Linked DNA regions of Homo sapiens. The protein of the gene in region 2 purifies or fractionates together with the protein of the main gene of each other region. This does not show direct contact. Each region holds a gene or a part of one and is shown on either strand. Other genes may lie near its edges.

Evidence for each region.
Region 1: the proteins of RILPL2 (region 2) and RAB10 purify together in Homo sapiens (co-immunoprecipitation; 2 studies listed by IntAct). This does not show direct contact.

The regions. Positions count from the first base shown.
Region 1 is NC_000002.12:26,119,507-26,130,743, reverse strand, and holds part of RAB10 (ras-related protein Rab-10), read right to left. Parts: intron 3,601-11,237; coding exon 3,511-3,600; intron 2,895-3,510; coding exon 2,793-2,894; intron 1-2,792. UniProt on the Homo sapiens protein: The small GTPases Rab are key regulators of intracellular membrane trafficking, from the formation of transport vesicles to their fusion with membranes.
Region 2 is NC_000012.12:123,418,352-123,429,588, forward strand, and holds part of RILPL2 (RILP-like protein 2), read right to left. Parts: intron 4,807-11,237; coding exon 4,693-4,806; intron 1-4,692. UniProt on the Homo sapiens protein: Involved in cell shape and neuronal morphogenesis, positively regulating the establishment and maintenance of dendritic spines. Plays a role in cellular protein transport, including protein transport away from primary cilia.

The DNA.
Region 1 (11,237 bases), on a different chromosome or scaffold from region 2:
TGGCACGTGGCTCACACCTGTAATTCCAACAATTCAGGAGGCCAGGGTGAGAGGATCACTTGAGGCCATGAGTTCAAGACCTGCCTGGACAAAACAGTGAGACACCCCCAATCTCTACCAAAAAATCTGAAAATTAGTGAGGGATGGTGATGTGTCCTCGTGGTCCTAGCTACTCAGAAAGCTGAAGCAGGAGGATGGCTTGAGCCCAGGAGTTCAAATCTAGCCTGGGCAACATAGTCAGACCCCATCAATTAAAAAAAAAAAAGAGAGAGACCAAGCCAGGCTTGATGGCATACCCCTGTGGTCCCAGCTACTAGTGTATCACTGGAGGCCAGGAATTTGAGGCTATGGCCAGCATGATCACACTTGCCAACAGCCACTACACTTCAGCCTGGGAAACACAGTGAGACCCTGTCACAAAAAGAAAAAAAAAAGGAAAGAAAGAAACACATTTTTTCCTAGTTGTATTCTTCTATTCTTTTGCTCTTCAAAAGAACAATAAATAATATAGATTTATTTTCTCAAGAAATTCTAATGGGTTTCACCTTAACTCAATTGTGAAAGACTATTCTTTCAAAAAAAATCTTAAAATTGTTTTTATAATTCAAAAAAGAAAGCTGTTGAAATTTCAAAACTAAACTGCCTATAGTCGGTAAATGAATCTGCCCTATGATCCGTCCCCCTTACCACCATCACTCTCTTGGAGTGCTATTTAGACTTTGGTATCTACCCTTCCAGTTCTCTAGTTGCTAAAAATAACAAAATGTATCTGCGTGTACATATGTATGTTTGGTATCATATAATCTTGAAAAATGAGATCACTTCACATATTATATCCTAATTTGCTTTTTATCACTCAATACACTATGGAGATCTTTTATACTTATTTTAATTGCTGTCAGCCTCTCTCATTCTCTGAAATAAAATTCAATTTTTGATCTGACTGGATTCTCATAGAAAAACATCTCCTAAAGCAGGAAATCCCAAAATATGATATGCAAGGAAGCTGGCAGACTCAAAAGGGCACCAATTTTTTAGTCCCATTGAAGAGCAATAACTGATGACTGTTTTTTCCAGTTTGAATATTCAATTGTAGTAAACAGATACCTACATTTCACTCTAAAAATTAGGTCCCTTAGTTTTAATGCCTCTATATAATTTACTTCAATGTAAATATCTCAACTCAATCTCTTATAATTGCTCAGAAATTTCACTAGATTTATATGTGACATACCACCTCTACTACAGCTAATGTCTCTGTCCTTCCAAAGTGGAGAAAGAAAACTGGTTGGTTAAGAAAATTTAAAAACAAACATCTACCTTTTATGTATAGGTTGGTTTTAGAAAAATATATTAATATTTCAAATATAAAAATAGAAAGGTTACCAAATGTAATTACATTTTCTCCTATACAACATCTGCTTCTCTTTTAGGATGTGTGTCAGATTTTTTTTTTTTTTTTTTTTTTTTTTTTTGAGATGGAGTCTTGGTCTGTCCCCAAGCTGGCATGCAGTGGCGTGATCTCGGCTCACTGCAACCTCTGACTCCCTGGTTCAAGGGATTCTTCTGCCTCAGCCTCCCAAGAAGCTGGGATTACAGGCACGTGCCACCACACCCAGCTAATTTTTGTATTTTTAGTACAGATGGGGTTTCACCGTGTTGGCCAGGATGGTCTCATCTCCTGACCTCGTGATCCACCCGCCTCAGCCTCCCAAAGTGCTGGGATTATAGACGTGAGCCACCGCGCCTGGCCAATGTATGTCAGATTTTATCTGTATTTATTTGCATTTAAAATTTCAACAGATTGAACAGAGAATTCAGGACTCATAACCAAATCCATGCATTATACCTATTCACTCGAGGGAAAATACGAAAATCCGATTTCCTAATTTGACTACATGTTACTTACACTAGCAAATATTGAGAGTCACAAATCTTAAACCCAGAAACAAACCTGAGGTAAAATATAAATTCCCCAAGATCACATTTTCAGCATTATTTATTTTCTTACATAATAGGTTTTATTCAGTACGTACAGAATATGTACACGCCCTTTATTTGCCTGAGAAGTGACTAATATGGCAGAATAGCAATTCTGTGGCAATAACTACTTAATAGATTCATTTCTTAAAATTTCCTAAATTATCTTTGAGAATGCAAAGTACTCATTAAGCGAAATGAGTCCAAGAGTAAAAAGGCTAGAAAAGACAAAAAGCTGGAAAAAATAATTGAACTAGGGACTAGACAGTGACTGTGGAGCTCAGAATATTAATGGTTACCACTGACTAGATCCTTCAGATTTCTAGATGGCTTTCTGTTTCCCCAGTTCCTTATAGCACAAGTCCCCAACCCCGGGGCTGTGGACTCTTACCGGTCCGTGGCCTGTTAAGAACGGGGCCACCCAGCAGGAGGTGAGCAGCAAGTGAGTGAGCATTATTACCTGAGCTCCGCCTCCCATCAGATCAGTGATAGCATTAGATTCTCATAGGAGTGCAAACCCCACTGTGAACTGCACATGCAAGGGATCTAGGTTGCGTGCTCCTTAGGAGGATCTAACGCCTGATGATCTGAGGTGGGGTAGTTTCTGGGTGAAACTACCCCCCAGTACGGTCCATGGAAAAATTATCTTCCATGAAACCAGTCCTTGGTGCCAAAAAGGCTGGGGACTGCTGCCCTACAGAAACAATACCACCCAAACTCAAATTCTGTATGTAAATCCAGTACTTCAGAATAGACAAAATATTCAACAGAGATACTCAGGTACCTGGCAGGATATAAAAACAGGAACTTACCTTTCGAAGGATATCTTCAGCTAACGTGAGGAACGCCTTTTCGATGTTTATATTTGCTTTTGCACTAGTCTCAAAAAACCTAATACCATGCTCCCTTGCAATCTAAAACAGAAACAAAATATCATCATAAAATTATCAAGCATGGGTTGCCAACTGCTGACTTTAACAGCTTAAATATTAATCTTATTCTGAAGGCAGTGGTCCCAACTAGAATATATAACACAGAATATTTCAGCAAGTCAAGCTCTTTCATAAAACAAACAAAAGAAAAGTAATCTCCTTACCCCAAAAGTTTATTTCAGATATTCTAAGTCAGATACTTCACACTGGGGGCAAACTTATGAGAAGCTCAACCTGACTCCTCAGGGTCTAATTTCTGCTCACCATAGGCTCCTGATTGTCACATTTTAGAACCATACTAATTGATACATTTCCTTAAAGTCCTAAGTTTAAAAACCGAGGATTAATGACTTATATTTTTCTCTCTTTGTAGTTTAAATAAGGCTAAAAATACTATGGGCACATTTGATTCTCCCATACATGTTAAATATGCACTGAAAAAAAATTCACTCAAATGATAAAATATTATTTCCAACAAGCATTTTAAAAACTATGTAATTAGCTTAGTGTGTTCGATCACTATTACTATAAAAATAATCAAAAGTAGCATTACCTTTACAAAGACAGAGCAGAGTATCAGTTTAATTCAGATTTTTACCTGTTCTCCTTTTCCTTTAGGTACAACTCTTTTGTCGTCCATATCACACTTGTTTCCTAGTAACATTCTTTCCACATCTTCATTGGCATGCTAAAATGAAATAAAATTTTACTTTTACATACTACCATGAATTACGGCTTAACAGTCTTTAAAAGTGACTTTATTCTCTCAATTTAGAGGGTCATTTCTATAGCTTTGAAGTTTTAAAGCAGTCACCCTAAAACTACTCCATACTAAAAGCCTACACAAATTCTTAGATTACCTAGCAAAAGAAACGCAATTCCCAAGACATATCCATGTCAAATACTATTTCCTCCCTAAAGGAGGCTGTCTACTTTCTAGGTATGTTCTTTCTTACCAAAAGAGAAGATACAAGCAAAGAAACTTGCATAATCTAAATCCAGGCTGGATCATTTCAGATTTTATAATGCATACTACCCTATAGAAGCCTTAATTAAACATTTTATAGAGCCTTAAACTCTCAAATAGCTGTGCTGCTATGGCACAAGGAGGTCCATGCAGAAAAATCAGTTAAAAACAAGTGGTTGTCCCCTTAAGATCCCAATGACAATTTTTGCAGAAATAGAAAGATCTATCCAAAAATTCATATGGAATCTAACATCAAAAGAATCTCTCTTTTTGAGACAGAGCCTTGCTCTGTTGCCCAGGCTGGAGTGCAGTGGTGTGATCTGGGCTTCCTGCAACTTTCGCCTCCCGAGTTCAAGCGATTCTCCTGCCTTAGCCTCTTGAGTAGCTGTGAGTAGCTGGGACTACAGGTGTGTGTACTACCATGCCAGCTAATTTTTGTAGTTTTCTGGTAGAGATGGGGGGTTTTGCCATGTTGGCCAGGCTGATCGCGAACTCCTGGCCTCAAGTGATCCACCCCCATCGGCCTCCCAAAGAGCTAGGATTACAGGCATGAGCCACTGAGCCCAGCCAAAATAATATTAGCTGGGGGAGTCAAATTTCAGAACTTACTGCAAATCAAAAAGTGTGGAACTGGCATAAAGACAGATACACAGACTAATGGAATGGAATAGAGAGCCCAGAAATAAATCCTCACATACTTAGTCAAATGACCCTCGACAAGGATGCCAAAATCAGTCAATAGGGAAAGGACAGTCTTTTCAATAAATAGCACTAGGAAAACCAGATATCCACATGCAAAACAATGAAGCTGGATCCTTATTTTAAACCATATAAAAAAATTAACTTGAACTAGATCAAAGACCTCAAACTATAAAACTCTTAGAAGAAAACATAGGGAAAAGCTTCAGGACACTGGATTTGGCAATGGTTTCTTTGACATGATACCAAAAGCACAGGCAATAAAAGAAAAAGTAGTTAAACTGTACTTCATCAAAGTTAAAAACTACTGTGCAACAAAGGACGCTATCAAGAGAATGAAAAGACTACCCACAAAAAGGAGGAAATATTTGTAAATCATGTATTTGAAAGGGAATAATACCTAGAATATATAAAAAACACCTAAAACTCCTAACAACAACAAAAAATGACAGCACTTTGGGAGGCTGTCAGGAAAATTGCCTGAGCCCAGGAGTTCGAGACTAGCCTGAGTAACACTGTGAGACCTCATCTCTACAAAAAATTTAAAAATTAGCCAGGCACGGTGGTGTGTGCCTGTAGTCCCAGCTACTTAGGAGGCTGTGGTAGGAGAATCACTTGAGCCTGGGAAGTTGAGGCTGCAGTGAGCCATGATCATCATGCCTCTGTACTCCAGCCTGGGGAACAGAGCAAGAACCTGTCTGGAAAAAATTTAAAAAAAAAAAAAAAAAAAAGCAAGCAAAGGATTTGAATAGACATTTCTTCAAAGAAGATATACAAACAAACAATATGCACATGAATAGATGCTCAATATCACTAAGATTAGGAAATGCAAATCAAAAACCACAATGAGAGATACCACTACATACCCATTAGTATGGCTACTATTAAAAAAACAGAAAACACATATTGGCGAGGATGTGGAGAAACCGACACCTTTGTGTACTGTTGGTAGGAATGTAAAATGGTGCAATCACTGTGGAAAAGTCTGGTGATTCCTCAAAAGGTTACACACAGAATTATCATATGATCCAGCAATTCCACTCATGGGTATACACGCAGAAGAATTTAAAGCAGGGACTCAGATATTTGTACACCAGTGTTCACAGCAACATTATTCACAATAGTAAAAGGGTGAAAACAACCCACATATCCAACAATGGGTGAATGAATAAACAGAACATGGCATATAAAAACAATGGAATATTATTCAGCCTCAAAAAATAAACAAGTTCTGACACATGCTACAATGTAGATGAACCTTGAAAACTTTATGTTAAATGAAGTAAATTACTTACAAATTGAACAAATACTATATGATTCCACTTATATGAGGTACCTATAACAGTCAAATTCATAGAAAATAGAATGGTGACAGTTGCCAGGAGATGGGGAAAGGGGGAGACAGAAATCATTGTTTAATGGATGCAAAGCTTGAGTTCAGAAAGATGAAAAAGTTCTGGAAATGGATGGTGGTGACGGTTGCACAACAGTAGAATGTACTTAACACCACTGAACTATACACCAAAATAATAGTTAAAATGAAAATTTCATGTTGTATGTATTTCACCACAATTTTAAAAAGTATTCAAAAACAACAATAGGCTGAGCACGGGGGCTCATGCCTGTAATCCCAACACTTTAAGAAGCTGAGGCAGGAGGAGCACTTGAGCCCAAGAGCTCAAGGCTGGAGTGAACTATTATCACTGCCACTGCACTCCAGCCAGGGCAACAAAGCAAGAACCTGTCTCAAAAAAAAAAAAAAAAAAAAAAAAAAAAGCAACAACAACAATAAGAAAAACAACAGCAACAAAACTGCCAAATGGCTGCGGTTACTTCATTTCCTGTAGCTATAAGAAAAAAAAAAACTAGGAAAGTTATAAAATATGCTGATTTAAAACAACATACAGTTGACCCTTGAACAATGGGGGTAAGGGTATACCATGTATAACTTTTACTCCCCAAACACTTAATTAGTAACAGCCTGATGCTAACCAGAAGTATTATCAGTAACAGTCGATTAACATATTTTATATATGTATTCTATACTGTATTCTTACCATAAAGTTAGAGAAAAGAAAATGTTATTAAGAAAATCATAAGGAAGAAAAATATATTTACTATTCATTAAGTGGAAGTGGATCATCATAAAGGTCTTCATCCTCAATGTCTTCAAATTGAGTAGGCTGAGGAGGAGAAAGAGGAGGGGGTTGGTCTTGCTGTCTCAGGGAAGGCAGAGGCAGAAGAGGTAGAGAAGGTGGAAGGGGAGGCAGGCACACTCAGTTTAACTTTACGGAAAAACATTGTAATTTCTTTTTTGCTTTTTCATTTCTTTAAAAATATTTCTATACAAAACCAATCCTTCTTTCATCATTTGCTTCAGTTTCAGTGCCTGTATCACACAATGGTCCATGTTGTACAGTAAGTCTAAAGCAGTCTTGAATAATCAGAACCCTTCTGCCAGATTGTCTACAGTCAATTTGTTTTCTGGCACTACTTCTTTGCCTTCTTCCTTATCGTCCAACGCTGGTTTGGAAGCACCGGCATCTTCATTAAATCATCTTCTGTTGATTCCTCTGGTTGATGTCTATTAGCTCTTGTCTTATCCACAGTCTCTTTCATAAATTCCTTGACTGGCTCTGCTACAAATCCTGTGAAATCATGCTCAACATCGGTACACAGTTTTCTCCAGCAGGAAGTTACTGTTTTGTGCTTGATGGCTTTCATGGCTTTTTCTATAACGATGGCATCTTCAGCGGTGTAATTCCTCCAGATTTTCATGATGTTCTATTGAGGTTAGAGTACCGTGTGTTATTAACCTTAAAGGTCCTCATGATCCCCTGATCTAGATGCTGAATTAGAGACTGTGTTCGGGGGCAAGTAGACCACTTCAATGTTTTCGGTGTTAAACTCATGGGGTTCTGGGTGGCCAGGGGCACTGTCCAACATCAAAAGAACTTTAAAGGGCTGTCCCATAATGGCAAGGTATTTCCTGATTTCAGGGACAAAGTATTGATGGAACCAATCCAGAAAAAGGATTCTCAGTGTTCAGGTCTTCTTGTTGAATGATCAAAAAACTGGCAGCTTCAAAAGACTTTTCCCTTCAGGTCTTGGGGGTTAGCAACTTTATACGTAAGGGCAGTCAGTCCTGATCATAAACCCAATTGCATTTGCACAGAACAGTAGTTAGCCTATCCCTTCCTGCCTTAATTCCCTGTGCTTTCTTCTTTTCCTAACACTCATGTCCTTTGTGGCCTGCCCCCCTCCCTGCCACCCCGAGAATAGGACACTTTTAACTGCATTAAAGACTTGTTCAGCGGTGCCCAGGAACTTGTCTGCTGTGTCTTAGTCAGCAGAAGCTGCTTCTCCTGTTAGCCTGCCATTTTTAGGCCAAGCCTCTTTCTAAAATTATCAAACCATTCTTTGCTGGCATTAACTCCTCTAGCTTCTCTTCCGTTTTGCTTTAAGTTGTCATATAATAACTTCACTTTTTCTTGAATATCATAGTCTACAAGTATGCCCTTTTTTTTTGTTTTTTTTTTTGAGACAGAGTCGCTCTGTCGCCCAGGCTGGAGTGCAGTGGTGTGATCTCAGCTCACTGCAAGCTCTGCCTCCCGGGTTCACACCATTCTCCTGCCTCAGCCTCCCGAGTGGCTGGGACTACAGGCGCCCGCCACCACGCCTGGCTAATTTTTTGTATTTTCAGTAGAGACGGGGTTTCAACGTGTTAGCCAGGATGGTCTCGATCTCCTGACCTCGTGATCTGCCCGCCTTGGCCTCCCAAAGTGCTGGGATTACAGGCGTGAGCCACCGCGCCCAGCCTACAAGTATGCCTTTCTTATAGCAATCCTGTACCCACATAAGAGCTGCATTTTCAACATGAGATAAAAAGGTATTCTGTAAAAAGTGCAAGGTTTCACACCTCCTGCTGTGGCTGCAGTGATGGCTTCACAAATTTTCTTTTATTTAAAATGGTCCTTATGCTGGATTAATTTATCTTGAAATAACGGGCAACCACAGCTGCAGACCTCATTCTACAGTACATATTAAGCAATTCAATTTTTTCTTGTAATGTCATGACTTTTCTGTTTCTCAGGATTGCTTCTGGCATCACTAGTGGCACTTTGTATAGGTCTGATGGTGTTATTCAAGGTTTATGGTATTGCACTAGACACGATGAAAACACGCAAGAACCACAAAAGACCTCTTTTGATTGCAATATGGGATTTACTGGAGACACAAACTGTTCACGGGGAGATGATCCACATCACATGGTGTTTTAAGCAGACACTTGGAAACATACGAGCTCACCAAAATAGCAACAGGAGGTGGCTACAAAATTATCACAGTAGTACAGTATGTATTAGTTATTTTTATGCAATTATGATTTAATACTGCATCTCTGTTACATTTCTCTTGATGCAAAAGGTGCCTTGTATGGGCTCTGTGTGTTTGAGTGTTAATAAATTTAAACTTTTAATAATAGATCTGTGTATGTTTTATGGTAGTAATAAAATAGACTAGTATCTACATATACTTTAGACATTCATAATATACTTAACTTTTTCTTAATTTCCCCCCCGCCCAATATTTCTAGGTTATGTGGCTTGTCTGTGAGTTTTTCAAGTTGTTGCAAGTCTCTAACATTTTTTCCAAAAGATTTGTTTTTAAAAACCTGTTTATAGAGCTGGGTGTGGTGGCACACACCTGTAATCCCAGCTTCTTGGGAGGCTGAGAAGGAAGAATCACTTGACCCCTGGAGTTTGAGACCAGCCTGGGCAACACTGCGAGTCCCCATCTCTTTAAACAAAAATATCCATGTGTAAGTGAACCTGCAGTTCAAGGGTCAATGACAGTTTAAAAGGGGGTAGACAAAGGTGGGATTAGGGAGGAAACAACTCTTTTGTTGCAAGGACGATACCCTTAGTAGAATCACAAGCTTAACAAAGAAAAATTATACCGCATGTGGTGGCTCACGCCTGTAAAGCCAGCACTTTGGGAGGCTGAGGTGGGTGGATCACATGAGGTCAGGGGTTCGAGACCAGCCTGGCCAATATGGCAAAACCCTGTCTCTACTAAAATTACTAAAATTAGCCGGGTGTGGCGATGCACGTCTGTAATCTCAGCTACTTGGGAGGCTGAGGCAGGACAATCACTTGAACCCAGGAGGTGGAGGTTGCAGTGAGCTGAGATGATACCACTGCACTCCAGCCTGGGTGACAGAGCAAGACTTTGTCTCGGGAAAAAAAAAATTATAATATACTATAAAGAAACTCGCTGGCTGGATGCGGTGGCTCATGCCTATAATCCCAGCATTTTGGGAGGCCGAGGCGGGCGGATCACGAGGTCAGGAGATTGAGACCATCCTGGCTAACACAGTGAAACCTCGTGTCTACTAAAAATACAAAAAATTAGCTGGGTGTGTTGATGGACGCCCTGTAGTCCCAGCTACTCAGGAGGCTGAGGCAGGAGAATGGTGTGAACCCGGGAGGTAGAGCTTGCAGTGAGCCAAGATAGCACCACTGCACTCCAGCCTGGGCAACAGAGCGAGACTCCGTCTCAAGAAAAAAAAAAAAGAAACTCCCTATTTAGGGATTCCATGGTCTTATCTGAATTTAGTGCCTCTTAATTTATGTTACTGCTAAAACAAAGGCAACTTGGCAAATATCCAGTAATAAGCAGCAATATACCAGGTGCTCCTAAAATCCTGCCATGTGCTAAAAGTAAGAGGCATTTTGATCTCAGAATCTAAGGATGGACTTCGGGGACATCAATAATTCCAAGGAGCACACATAAAACTTTGCAAGTTGTATAAGTACATCATTCTGGTAAGATTCTAATTTCTCAAAGGGGTCCATGATCCCAAAGAAGTACAGAAGCATGGTTTTAAAAGCTCCCAGCTGCTAAATGGACAAATTATCACAGTGACCTGTAATAATCTACCCACATCCTAAACACTGCAAGTTACCAGAGCCACTAACATGAACCTCCACTCAAAGAGAAGATAAATTATCTGTAGCTTTAGAAGTCACTGTTCTACTAAGAACACCTGTAAGTTAGGTGCAAGCAGGCTGATGGAACGAAGCCGAAGCCAATAAATAAATGATCAATGAAGTATAAAAAAGGGAAAATTACCTTATATATAAATTTATAAGTGTTAAGATATTTTCAGCCTGTTTTTTAAAAAAGCTTTAGCAATCAGACCACCAATTTACAACCTACTACACCTCCACGCCAACTCACATCAGTATTCTGGGGCTAGTGAGGAAATAGGTATAATTCTTTATACATGTGTACCATTTCAGAGCATAAATATAATTCTAGCTCAAAAATATATTTGAAAGTAAGCCTGCTGGGCACAGTGGCTCATGTGTATAATCCCAACATTCTGGGAAGCCAATGCAGGAAGATTGCTTGAGCCCAAGAATTTGAGGCCAGCCAGGGCAACACAGTAAGACCCCATCACCACAAAAATAAAAATTAGCCAGACATGATATAGCACGCTTGTGGTCCTAGGTACCTGGGAGGCTAGGCTGGGAGGATAGCTTGAGCTCAGGAGGTAGAGGCTGCAGTAAGCTGTGATTGTGCCACTGCACTCTAACCTGACAGAGTGAGACCCTGTCTTTAAAAAGAAAAAAAAAAAAGCAAAGCTAAGACCTGAA
Region 2 (11,237 bases):
GCTGTGATAAAAGATAACCCAAATCTAAAGTAGTCCTCTCTCTCCCGTTCTGTCCCCTTATTTGTGATCATAGCACATATAGCTATCTGAAATTGTCCTGTTAATATATTTCTTTACCTGTTCACTCTCTGACTCCCTCTACTAGAATGTAAGGTCCACGAGCCAGAGACTTTAGGTTCTGTTCACTGCTGTATCTTCAGCACCTACAACAGTGCCTGGCACATGGCAGACCCTCAGTAAATATTTGTTGAATGAATGGAGTACAGGAAAGCTGCAGCCTACTGTCCTGACACCTGGCAACTAAGAGGGCACATATCAGTGTGGTCCAAGGAACTTTTGAAAAAAATCCAGATTTCTGAGCTTCATCCAAGAACCACTGACTTGATTTCTTTTTCTTTTTCTTTCTTTTTTTTTTTTTTTTTTTTTTTGAGACAGAGTCTTGCTCTGTTGCTAGGCTGGAGTGCAGTGGCGCAATCTCAGCTCACTACAACCTCTGCCTCCCGGGTTCAAGCAATTCTCTTGCCTCAGCCTCTTGAGTAGCTGGGACTACAGGCTTGGGGTTTCACCATGTTGGCCAGGATGGTCTCAATCTTCTGACCTTGTGATCTGCCCGCCTCAGCCTCCAAAAGTGCTGAGATTATAGGTGTGACCCACTGCGCCCGGCTTTTTTTTTTTTTGAGACGGAGTCTCGCTCTGTCACTCAGGCTGGAGTGCAGTGGCACGATCTCGGCTCACTGCAAGCTCTGCCTGCTGGGTTCACGCCATTCTCCTGCCTCAGCCTCCCGAGTAGCTGGGAATACAGGCGCCCACTACCATGCCCGGCTAATTTTTTGTATTTTTAGTGGAGATGGGGTTTCACCATGTTAGCCAGGATGGTCAGCCAGGATGGTCTCCATATCCTGACCTTGTGATCTGCCCGCCTCGGCCTCCCAAAGTGCTGGGATTACAGGTGTGAGCTACTGCGCCCGGCCTACTGACTTGATTTCTGAGAATCTGAATTTTACACAAGCACCTCACTCTTAGTATAAGAGGCAGCATCCGAAGAACTATGGGATCAACCCTGGTGCACAGACATGAGGGAAGTATTCAGAGGAAAGTGCATAGCATGTTCCAATGCTGGGACACGGCTCATTCAAGAGGAATGGTCCCACGTGGGACAGGGAGAGGTCCTTGGGCATTTCCCACAGCCAGGCTGAAACTGCCTGTTGCTCCAGTTCTATTCTGGTTATCAAGAGGATATTGACTCCCTTTTTTCTTTTTTTTTTTTTTTTTGAGATGGAGTCTTGCTCTATTGCCCAGGCTGGAGTGCAGGGGTGTGATCTCAGCTCACTGCAATATCCTCCTCCCAGGTTCAAGTGATTATTCTACTTCAGCCTCCCGAGTAGCTGAAATTACAGAGGCCATGGCTAATTTTGTATTTTTATTTATTTAATTTTTATTTTTATCTATTTATTTTTTTTCAGACACAGTCTCATTCTGTCGCCCAGGCTGGAGTGCAGTGGTGCGATCTTGGCTCACTGCAACCTCTGCCTCCCAGGTTAAAGCGATTCTCCTGCCTCAGCCTCCCAGGTTAAAGCGATTCTCCTGCCTCAGCCTCCCAAGTAGCTGGGACTATAGGTACACGCCACCACACCCAGCTAATTTTTGTATTTTTAGTAGAGACGGGGTTTCTTTTTTTTTTTTTTTTTTTTGAGACAGAGTCTTGCTCTGTTGCCCAGGCTGGAGTGCAGTGGTGTGATCTTGGCTCACTGCAACATCCGCCTCCTGGGTTCATGCCATTCTCCTGCCTCAGCCTCCTGAGTAGCTGGGATTAAAGGAGCCTGCCACCATGCCTGGCTAATTTTTTTGTATTTTTAGTAGAGACGTGGTTTCACCATGTTAGCCAGGATGGTCTCGATCTCCTGACCTCGTGATCCTCCCGCCTCGGCCTCCCAAAGTGCTGGGATTACAGGCCTGAGCCACTGCGCCTGGCAGAGACGGGGTTTCACCATGTTGGCCAGGATGATCTTGATCTCTTGGCTTGGTGATCCGCCCACCTCGGCCTCCCAAAGTCTTGGGATTACAGGCGTAAGCCACTGTGCCCGGCCTATTTTTATTTTTTTTGAGACAGAGTCTCGTTTTGTTGCCCAGGCTGGAGTGCAGTGGTGCAATCTCAGTTCACTGCAACCTCTGCCTCCTGGGCTCAGGCGATTCTCCTGCCTCAGCCTCCCGAGTAGCTGGGATTACAGGCACCCGCCACCATGCCCGGCTAATTTTTGTATTTTTAGTAGAGACGGGGCTTCACCATGTTGGCTAGGCTGGTCTCGAACTCCTGACCTCAGGTGATCCTCCCACCTCAGCCTCCCGAAGTGCTGGGTTTACAGGCGTCAGCCACTGCGCCCGGTCGAGTTTGACTCTTGATTCCATTTCCTGAGCATCACCATGTGCAGCAGGAAACATTCTGGAAAGGTGTTTTCCCTGCCGTAGATTCCATGTAGCCCAAGATTAGGGGCGAATGCACTTAGGAGGTAAATAGATGCGGCTTCAGGTCTGAGTTCCACCACCACTGACCCGCTGTGTAACCTTTGCAGGTCATTGATCCTCTCTGACTCTCAGTTTGCCCGTCTGTAAAACAGATCTCCTGAGTAGATGTTTACTCAGCTCAGTGTCTGGCACATAGCAAATGCTCACTAAGTGGGAGCTATGTTAAATCTTTTTTTTTTTTTTTTTGAGACAGGGTCTCACTCTGTTGCTCAGACTGGAGTGCAGTGGCACCATCTCGGCTCACCTCAACCTCCGCCTCCCAAGCTCAAGTGATTCTCCTGCTTCAGCTTCCTGAGTAGCTGAGATTAAGGCGAACGCCACTACCACCCAGCTCATTTTTGTATTTTTTAATAGAGTCAGGGTTTCACCATGTTGGCCAGGCTGGTCTCGAACTCATGACCTCAAATGATCCACCCACCTCGGAAGTACTGGGATTACAGGTGTAAGCCACTGCATCTGGCTTAGCTATGGCGAATCTTAAGGTATGGGGAATTATCTTTCCCTTTCCCCAGTCCTACTTCATCTCATCAAATTAAACCCAACAGCCTCTGAGTAATATTGGGAAGAAAACTGCTATTTCCCTGCCCACCATACTGAGCTCACATGAACCACTGCCCCCAGAGGAAGAACCATGACTTTGCTCTCTGGAAGCTACATGCCTGACTGCCTCTTCCTTTGGTTTTTTCCTGCTGGGCCAGAGGTATTCTCCCCTGTGCTCCTGCCCCTTGCCCTCTGCCCCTGCTCCCTTCCAAGCTCCTCAAGGTCCTGTCCCTGAGAAAGAAGGCCTGGGTTATTCCTTTTTTTTTTTTTTTTTTTTGAGTCTCGCTCTGTTGCCCAGGCTAGAGTGCAGTGGCACAATCTCGGCTCACTGCAACCTCCACCTCCCGGGCTCAAGCGATTCTCCTGCCTCAGCCTCCCGAATAGGTGGGATTACAGGCATCTGCCATCACGCCCGGCTAATTTTTGGATTTTTAGTAGAGACGAGGTTTTGCCATGTTGGCCAGGCTGGTCTCGAACTCCTGACCTCAGGTGATCTGCCCGCCTCAGCCTCCCAAAGTGCTGGGATTACAGGAGTAAGCCACCGTGCCTGGTCATCGCTATTATCATTTTTGTTTTCTTTCTTTCTCTCTCTTTTTTTTTTTTTTTGAGATAGGGTCACGCTCTGTTACCCAGGCTGGAGTGCAGTAGCGTGATAATAGTGATAATAGTTTACTGCAGCCTTGAACTCCTGGGCTTAAGTAATCCTCCAGTCTCATCCTCCTGAGTAGCTGGGACCACAGGTGCAGGCCACCACGCCCAGCTAATTTCACTTGATCTCAGCTAAAAGGCCGACAAATGATACCAGCTAATTAAAAAAAAAAAAATTGGCCAGGCGCAGTGGCTCATGCCTGTAATCCCAGCACTTTGGGAGGCTGAGGCAGGTTGGTCACGAGGAGTTCAAGACCAGCCTGTCCAACATGGTGAAACCCCATCTCTACCAAAAATACAAAAATTAGCCAGGCATGGTGGCGCATGCCTGTAATCCCAGCTACTCAGTAGGCTGAGGCAGGAGAACTGCTTGAACCTGGGAGGCAGAGGTTGCAGTGATCCGAGATTGCACCACTGCACTCCAGCCTAGGCGACAGAGTGAGACTTTGTCTCAAAACAAAAAACAAAACGATGTTTTTTCATTGACATGGGGTCTCACTTTGTTGCCCAGGCTAGTCTCAAACTCCTGGCTTCAAATGAATCTCTTGCCTCAGCCTCCTGTAATCACTGTTGAGATTACAGGTGTGAGCCATTGCACCCAGCCTGGTCAAACATCACAGGGAGGCAGTGGAGTGTAGAAGCCAGACTTCCTTGGGTTCCTGACTTCACTATTTACCCTCTGTGAGACCTTGGGCAAGTTACCTTACCTCTCAGTAGCTATTTCTCCATCTGTAAAATAGTATCTACCTTGCAGGGTCACTGTGATGATTCGATGAATTAATATATGCCAAGTGCCTAGGCTACTGCCTGGCAGATATCATTATAATACACTGGCATTGAGTTTTCCCATGGGCTGCAGCACCACAACCGGGAGAGTAGAGGCCCTCCCTGCCCTGGGCAGCTGGTCAGCCTCTTCTTGCCCCCGACTACTTCCTTGAGTTATTATTTGGCGGGACCGGGGGGCAGCAAGGTGACACTTACAGCTTTTTTATGATTGTCTTCTCCTCCTTGTTCCTGCCAGCATTTTTGGCACTAGTAACCACAGCATCTTTTTCTCTTCTTCCTCCTGGGCCTTCTCTTGGTGGAATCAGGCCACTGGGAAACGGGACAAAAAATAAATGGATTATTTTATTACAGATCGTTTTTTTTTTTTTTTTGAGTTGGAGTCTTTCTCTGTTGCCCAGGCTAGAGTGCAGTGGCGCCATCTCAGCTCACTGCAACCTCCGCCTCCCGGGTTCAAGTGATTCTCCTGCCTCTGCCTCCTGAATAGCTAGGACTACAGGCGCCTGCCACCATGCTCGGCTAATTTTTGTATTTTTAGTAGAGATGGGCTTCACCGTGTTGCCCAGGCTGGTCTCAAACTCTTGACCTCAAGTGATCCATCTGCCTCAGACTCCCAAAGTGCTGGGATTACAGGCATGAACCACTGAGCCTGGCTTTTATTACAGACCTCTTATCTGTGCAGCTCTGAAAATAAAGGGTCTTAATGATGATGATGATGATTATGGTAATATTACGGTTGAAAGCACTAGAGTCAGAGAAATTCTGTTTAAAATTAGAATCTTCCCTGTACCTTTCCAATGTGATGCCTCGTTTCTTTTTTTTTTTTGAGACGGATTCTCGCTCTGTTGCCCAGGCTGGAGTGCAGTGGCGCGATCTCGGCTCACTGCAAGCTCCGCCTCCCAGGTTCCCGCCATTCTCTTGCCTCAGCCCCCCGAGTAGCTGGGACTATAGGCGCCCGCCACCACACCCGGCTCATTTTTTGTATTTTTAGTAGAGACAGGGTTTCACTGTGTTAGCCAGGATGGTCTCAATCTCCTGACCCAGTGATCTGCCCGCCTCAGCCTCCCAAAGTGCTGGGATTACAGGTGTGAGCCACCGTGCCTGACCCTCTTGTTTCTTTCTCTTACCTAATTGCATTGGCTACTGCTTCAAGCTTCTCAGTTTTCTAGGAATATGATTGTGTATAAATTCTCTAACTTAAGCCTTGGTTTCCTAACCTATAAAATGAGTCTAATAATAGTACCTACCTCAAAGGATTGAGAGATTATCTAAGATGATACATAGTGCTTAACATTCAACAAATATTTATTAAGCTACCTACTGTGGTTAATAAATATTTTGTCTCTGAACTGTTTTGTCTCTGAACAAAATAGACAAAATATATTCTCTCACGTAATTTATATTCCAGTAGGAGAAGGAAACAGTCAATAAAGAAATAAGTAAAATAAAAGTATAAATTGTAAGTCAGATGTTGATAAGAGTTAGATTTTTTTTTTTTTTTTTTGAGACAGAGTCTTGCTCTGTCGCCCAGACTGGAGTGCAGTGGCACGATCTCGGCTCACCGTAGCCTCTGCCTCCCGGGTTCAAATGATTCTCCTGCCTCAGCCTCCCAAGTAGCTGGGATTACAGGTGTGCACCACCACGCCTGGCTAATTTTGTATTTTTAGCAGAGACAGGGTTTCTCCATGTTGGTCAGGCTGGTCTCAAACTCCCGACCTCAGGTGATCCACCCGCCTTGGCCTCCCAAAGTGTTGGGATTACAGGCATGAGCCACCACACCCAGCCCCTTCCCAATTATGTTACCAAAAAATTTCCTTTTGTGTTTAAGCTAGTTTAAATCGGACTTCTGTCACTTGCAACCATAAGAAGACTGACCAAAATGAAACATTTCAATTACGGCACAGTACAACTCATTACATCCACTTAAGCGTTTTGTTGCAGTGCCCACTGGTAAATTTACCCCCATGGTGTTGTCCCCTTGCTGTGGACTGAATTGTGTGTTTTAATTTTTTTATTTATTTTATTTTTAAAAATTTTCATTTATTTATTTTTTTGAGACAGAGTCTAGCTCTGTCACCCAGGCTGGAGTGGTGGCGCTACCTTGGCTCACTGCAAGCTCCGCCTCCCGGGTTCACGCCATTCTCCTGCCTCAGCCTCTCAAGTAGCTGGGACTACAGGCGTCCGCCACCACGCCCGGCTAATTTTTTGTATTTTTAGTAGAGATAGGATTTCACTGTGTTAGCCAGGATGGTATCAATCTCCTGACCTCGTGATCCGCCCGCCTCTGCCTCCCAAAGTGCTGTACAGGCATAAGCCACTGCGCCCGGCCTTATTATTATTTTTTTTTTGAGATGGAGTTTCACTATTGTTGCCCAGGCTGGAGTGCAATGGTGCAATCTCAACTTGCTGCAACCTCCGTTTCCCAGGTTCAAGCGATTCTCCTGCCTCAGCCTCCCGAGTAGCTGGGATTACAGGTGCCCACCACCACACTTGGCTAATTTTTTTGTATTTTCAGTAGAGACGGGGTTTCACCATGTTGGCCACGCTGGTTTTGAACTCCTGACGTCAAGTGATCTGCCTGCCTCAGCCTCCCAAAATGCTGGGATTACAGGTGTGAGCCATCGTGCCTGGCCGAATTGTGTGTCTTTAATAAAAATTCCTGGCCAGGCTCAGTGGCTCACCATGTATTTCACAGCACCTTGAGCTGACAAAGATACCTCTTTCAGTGTGAGTGTGAAAGGGCAGGATTCATACTTCTCCCTCCTTCTTCATAAAAGAGTTTTGCAAAGAGTGGGCTCTTAATATCTACTTTTTTTTTTTTTTTGAGACAGAGTCTTGCTGTCGCCCAGGCTGGAGTACAGTGGTGCGATCTTGGCTCACTGCAACCTCCACCTCCCTGGTTCAAGCAATTCCCCTGCCCCAGCCTCCAGAGTAGCTGGGATTACAGGTGCACGCCACCATGCCTGGCTAATTTTTTTGTATATTTAGTAGAGATGAGATTTCACCATGTTGGCCAGACTGGTCTCGAACTCCTGACCTCAGGCAATCTGCCTGCCTCGGCCTCCCAAAGTGCTGGGATTACAGGCGTGAGCCACTGTGCTCAGCCATTTCTTAATATTGTTATCAATAATTAAAAAAAATTTTTTTGAGACAGGGTCTTGATCCATTGCCCAGGCTCATCTTGAACTCCTAGGCTCAAGTGTTCCTCCTGTCCCAAACTCCCAAAGTGTTGGGATTACAGGCATGAGCCACCAAACCCGGCCTAAATTTTTGTAATTACAAAATATTATATTATTTATATTCTAATTTTATTTTATTTTTGAGACAGAGTCTCACTCTATCACCCAGGCTGGAGTGCAGTGGCAAAATCTCTGCTCATTGCAACCTCCGCCTCCTGGGTTCAAGTGATTCTTGTGCCTCAGCCTTTTCAGTAGCTGGGATTACAGGTGTGTACCACCACACCCGGCTAATTTTTGTATTTTTAGTATTGACGGAGTTTTGCCATGTTGGCCAGGCTGGTGTTGATTGAACTCCTGACCTCAGGTGATCCACCCACGTTGTCCTCCCAAAGTGTTGGGATTACAGGTGTGAGCCACCTGCCCAGCTGATATTTTATTATAGATACTTATTATAATAATGATTTAACAAGAAGCATCATCTAAAATTTCCATTTTTCCATGATCTATTATTACATAAATTAAACTTGGTGACTAAAAACAGTGGTGACATGATCTCCAATGATGACTCTTTCTTTCTTTCTTTTTTTTCTTTTTTTGAGATGGAGTCTCGCTGTCGCCCAGGCTGGAGTGCAGTGGCGCGATCTCGGCTCACTGCAGGCTCTGCCCCCCGGGGCTCACGCCATCCTCCTGCCTCAGCCTCCCGAGTAGCTGGGACTACAGGTGCCCGCCACCTCGTCTGGCTAATTTTTTTATATTTTTAGTAGAGACGGGGTTTCACTGTGTTAGCCAGGATGGTCTCGATCTCCTGACCTCGTGATCTGCCCACCTCGGCCTCCCAAAGTGCTGGGATTACAGGCGTGAGCCACCGCGGCCAGCCGACTCTTTCTTATAATTGGCTTTCTTTTTTTTTTTTTTTAGATCAGATCTCACTGTGTTGCCCAGGCTGGAGTGCAGTTGCTATTCACGGGTGCAATCACTGCCCACTGAAGCCTCAAATTCCTAGTCTCGTGGGATCCTCCTGCCTCAGCCTCCCAAGTAGCTGAGACTACAGGCACTGAGACTATAGGTGCACACTGCTGTGCCTGGCTTCTTATGGTTGGCTCTGTGGTCCACCTGCTAGCCTGAGCTTCTCACTTGGCTGCGTTCAGTGGGCCATTGGCGGAGGGCTGTGCACAGCTGGGGCTGTCAGCAGGTGCGCCCTGGTTCTCCTTCACATGACCTCTCCATGGGACTTCCCCTTGAGCTTCCTCACAGAATGCTGGTCTCAAGGAAGCATTCTAAGAGCACAGAAACAGAAGAAAGGCCTCTTACCAACTTAACCCCAGAGGCCTAACAGCGTCACTTCCACCCTGTTCTCACAGTCAAAGCAAGTCACAGAGCCAGCCTACATGCAAAGAGAGGGAAAACAGAATCCACCTCTTGATGAAAGGAGTGGCAAAGTTTCATTGCAAAAGGTATGCAGGGTGGGAAATACTGCTGTGGCTCTCTTTGGAAGCAACCTACCATATTTCCCTGGAATTATACTTTTTTTTTTTTGAGATACAGTCTCGCTCTGTCACCCAGGCTGGAGTGCAGTGACACATCTCAGCTCACTGCAACCTGCGCCTCCTGGGTACAAGCAATTCTCCTGCCTCAGCCTCCTGAACAGCTGGGACTACAGGTATGAGTCACCACGCCTGGCTAATAATTTTTATATTTTTAATAGAGACGGAGTTTCACCATGTTGCCCAGGCTGATCTCAAACTCCTGACCTCAGGCAATCTGCCTGCCTCGGCCTCCCAAAGTGCTGGGATTACAGGTGTGAGCCACCTCAACCAGCTGTAATCAATTTATTATCAGTATATTATCTGTGTGAGTTTGGACCTTCAAATGGATGCAGTTGCTATGAGAACATCTCAGCTGGCATGCTGGCTTCTCCACAATATATAACACTAGAGACGAAGCAGAATCCTGCCTCTCTTGGCCTGAGCCAGATGGAAAGTGTGCGTCTCTTGTTCTCTGAGAATTCAAAACTAGAAAGAAAGTGTGTGGTTTTGCCCACTAACAAGCTGCTCACGACACCAGCAGCTTGGCAGTTTCTCTTTTTAACTACCTGTGCCTGAACTACTTATTTTATTCTATTTTTTTTCTGAGATGGAGTCTCGCTCTTCCGCCCAGGCTGGAGTGCAGTGGCGAGATGTCGGCTCGCTGCAAGCTCCACCTCCCAGGTTCACACCATTCTCCTGCCTCAGCCTCCCAAGTAGCTGGGACTACAGGCGCCCGCCACCACGCCTGGCTAATTTTTTGTATTTTTATTAGAGACGGGGTTTCACCGTGTTAGCCAGGCTGGTCTCGATCTCCTGACCTTGTGATCCACCCACCTCGGCCTCCCAAAGTGCTGGGATTACAGGCGTGAGCCACCGCGCCCGGCCCTGAATTACTTACTAAATGAGACAAAGGTCTTTCCATGAACACGGTTCCAACCTCAGCAAAAGGGAGACAATAAATGTGGGTTCTTACAACGCTTCTGCTGTATTGCTGCTCTCTGAAAGATGCTACATTTAAGGCATTTAAAGAATCATATCACTTGGGCTTTGTTTCATTTTTGATCAGGGTATGTCCTTAATTCCAAGCTTTCGTGATCTAAATGCGGCGTGCTAATTACAAGCACAGTCTCTGATGTCACACTGTCTGAGGTCACATCACCACTGTTGCCACCACTGCTTAAGCAGGTGCCCACCACTCTGGTCCTCAGCTCAGCATAGTGATAACATCACTGCTACTCACAGTCTTGCTGTGAGCACTAATTGAAATGATGCTTGGGATACATTTAGCAGACAGAGTGCCTGGCACATGGCGAGTATCAATAAATACTAGCCAACACGACATTTTTATTGCCCTGGTTTTTCCTTCCTCTACCTATAAGAAAACATGCTTCGTTTAACTCAGTGTTTCCCAGAATTATTTGACTACAGAGCCCCCTTTTCAAAAAATACCTAAGTAAAGGAAAACATTTTGGGAAATAGCACAAATGGAAATAGCTACGAGTCTCAACGTGATTATGGCAACAGCTTTTTTATAGCCTCTCTTGCTTGTCCTACAATCTATTTTGTATATGGTACCACTGCAGTCTTTTTTAACTTTCCTTATTTTTTTTTAATTTCTTTTTAGAGACAGGGTCTTGCTATGTTGCCCAGGCTGGCCTTGAATCCCTGGGCTCAAGTGATCCTCCCGCTTCAGGCTCCCTAAGTGCTGGGATGTAACACTGCACCAGGACTTTTTGTTTTTGTTTTTGTTTCGTTTTGTTTTTGAGAAAGAGTTTTGCTCTTTCGCCCAGGCTGCAGTGCAGTGGCACGATCTCGGCTCACTGCAACCTCCGCCTTCTGGTTTCAAGTGATTCTCCTGCCTCAGCCTCCCAGGTAGCTGGGATTACAGGCGCCCGCCACCACACCTGGCTAATTTTTGTATTTTTTAGTAGAGATGGGGTTTCACCATGTTGGCCAGGCTGGTCTCGAACTCCTGACCTCGTGATCTGCCCGCCTCGGCCTCCCAAGGTGCTGGGATTACAGACGTGCCACCATCCCC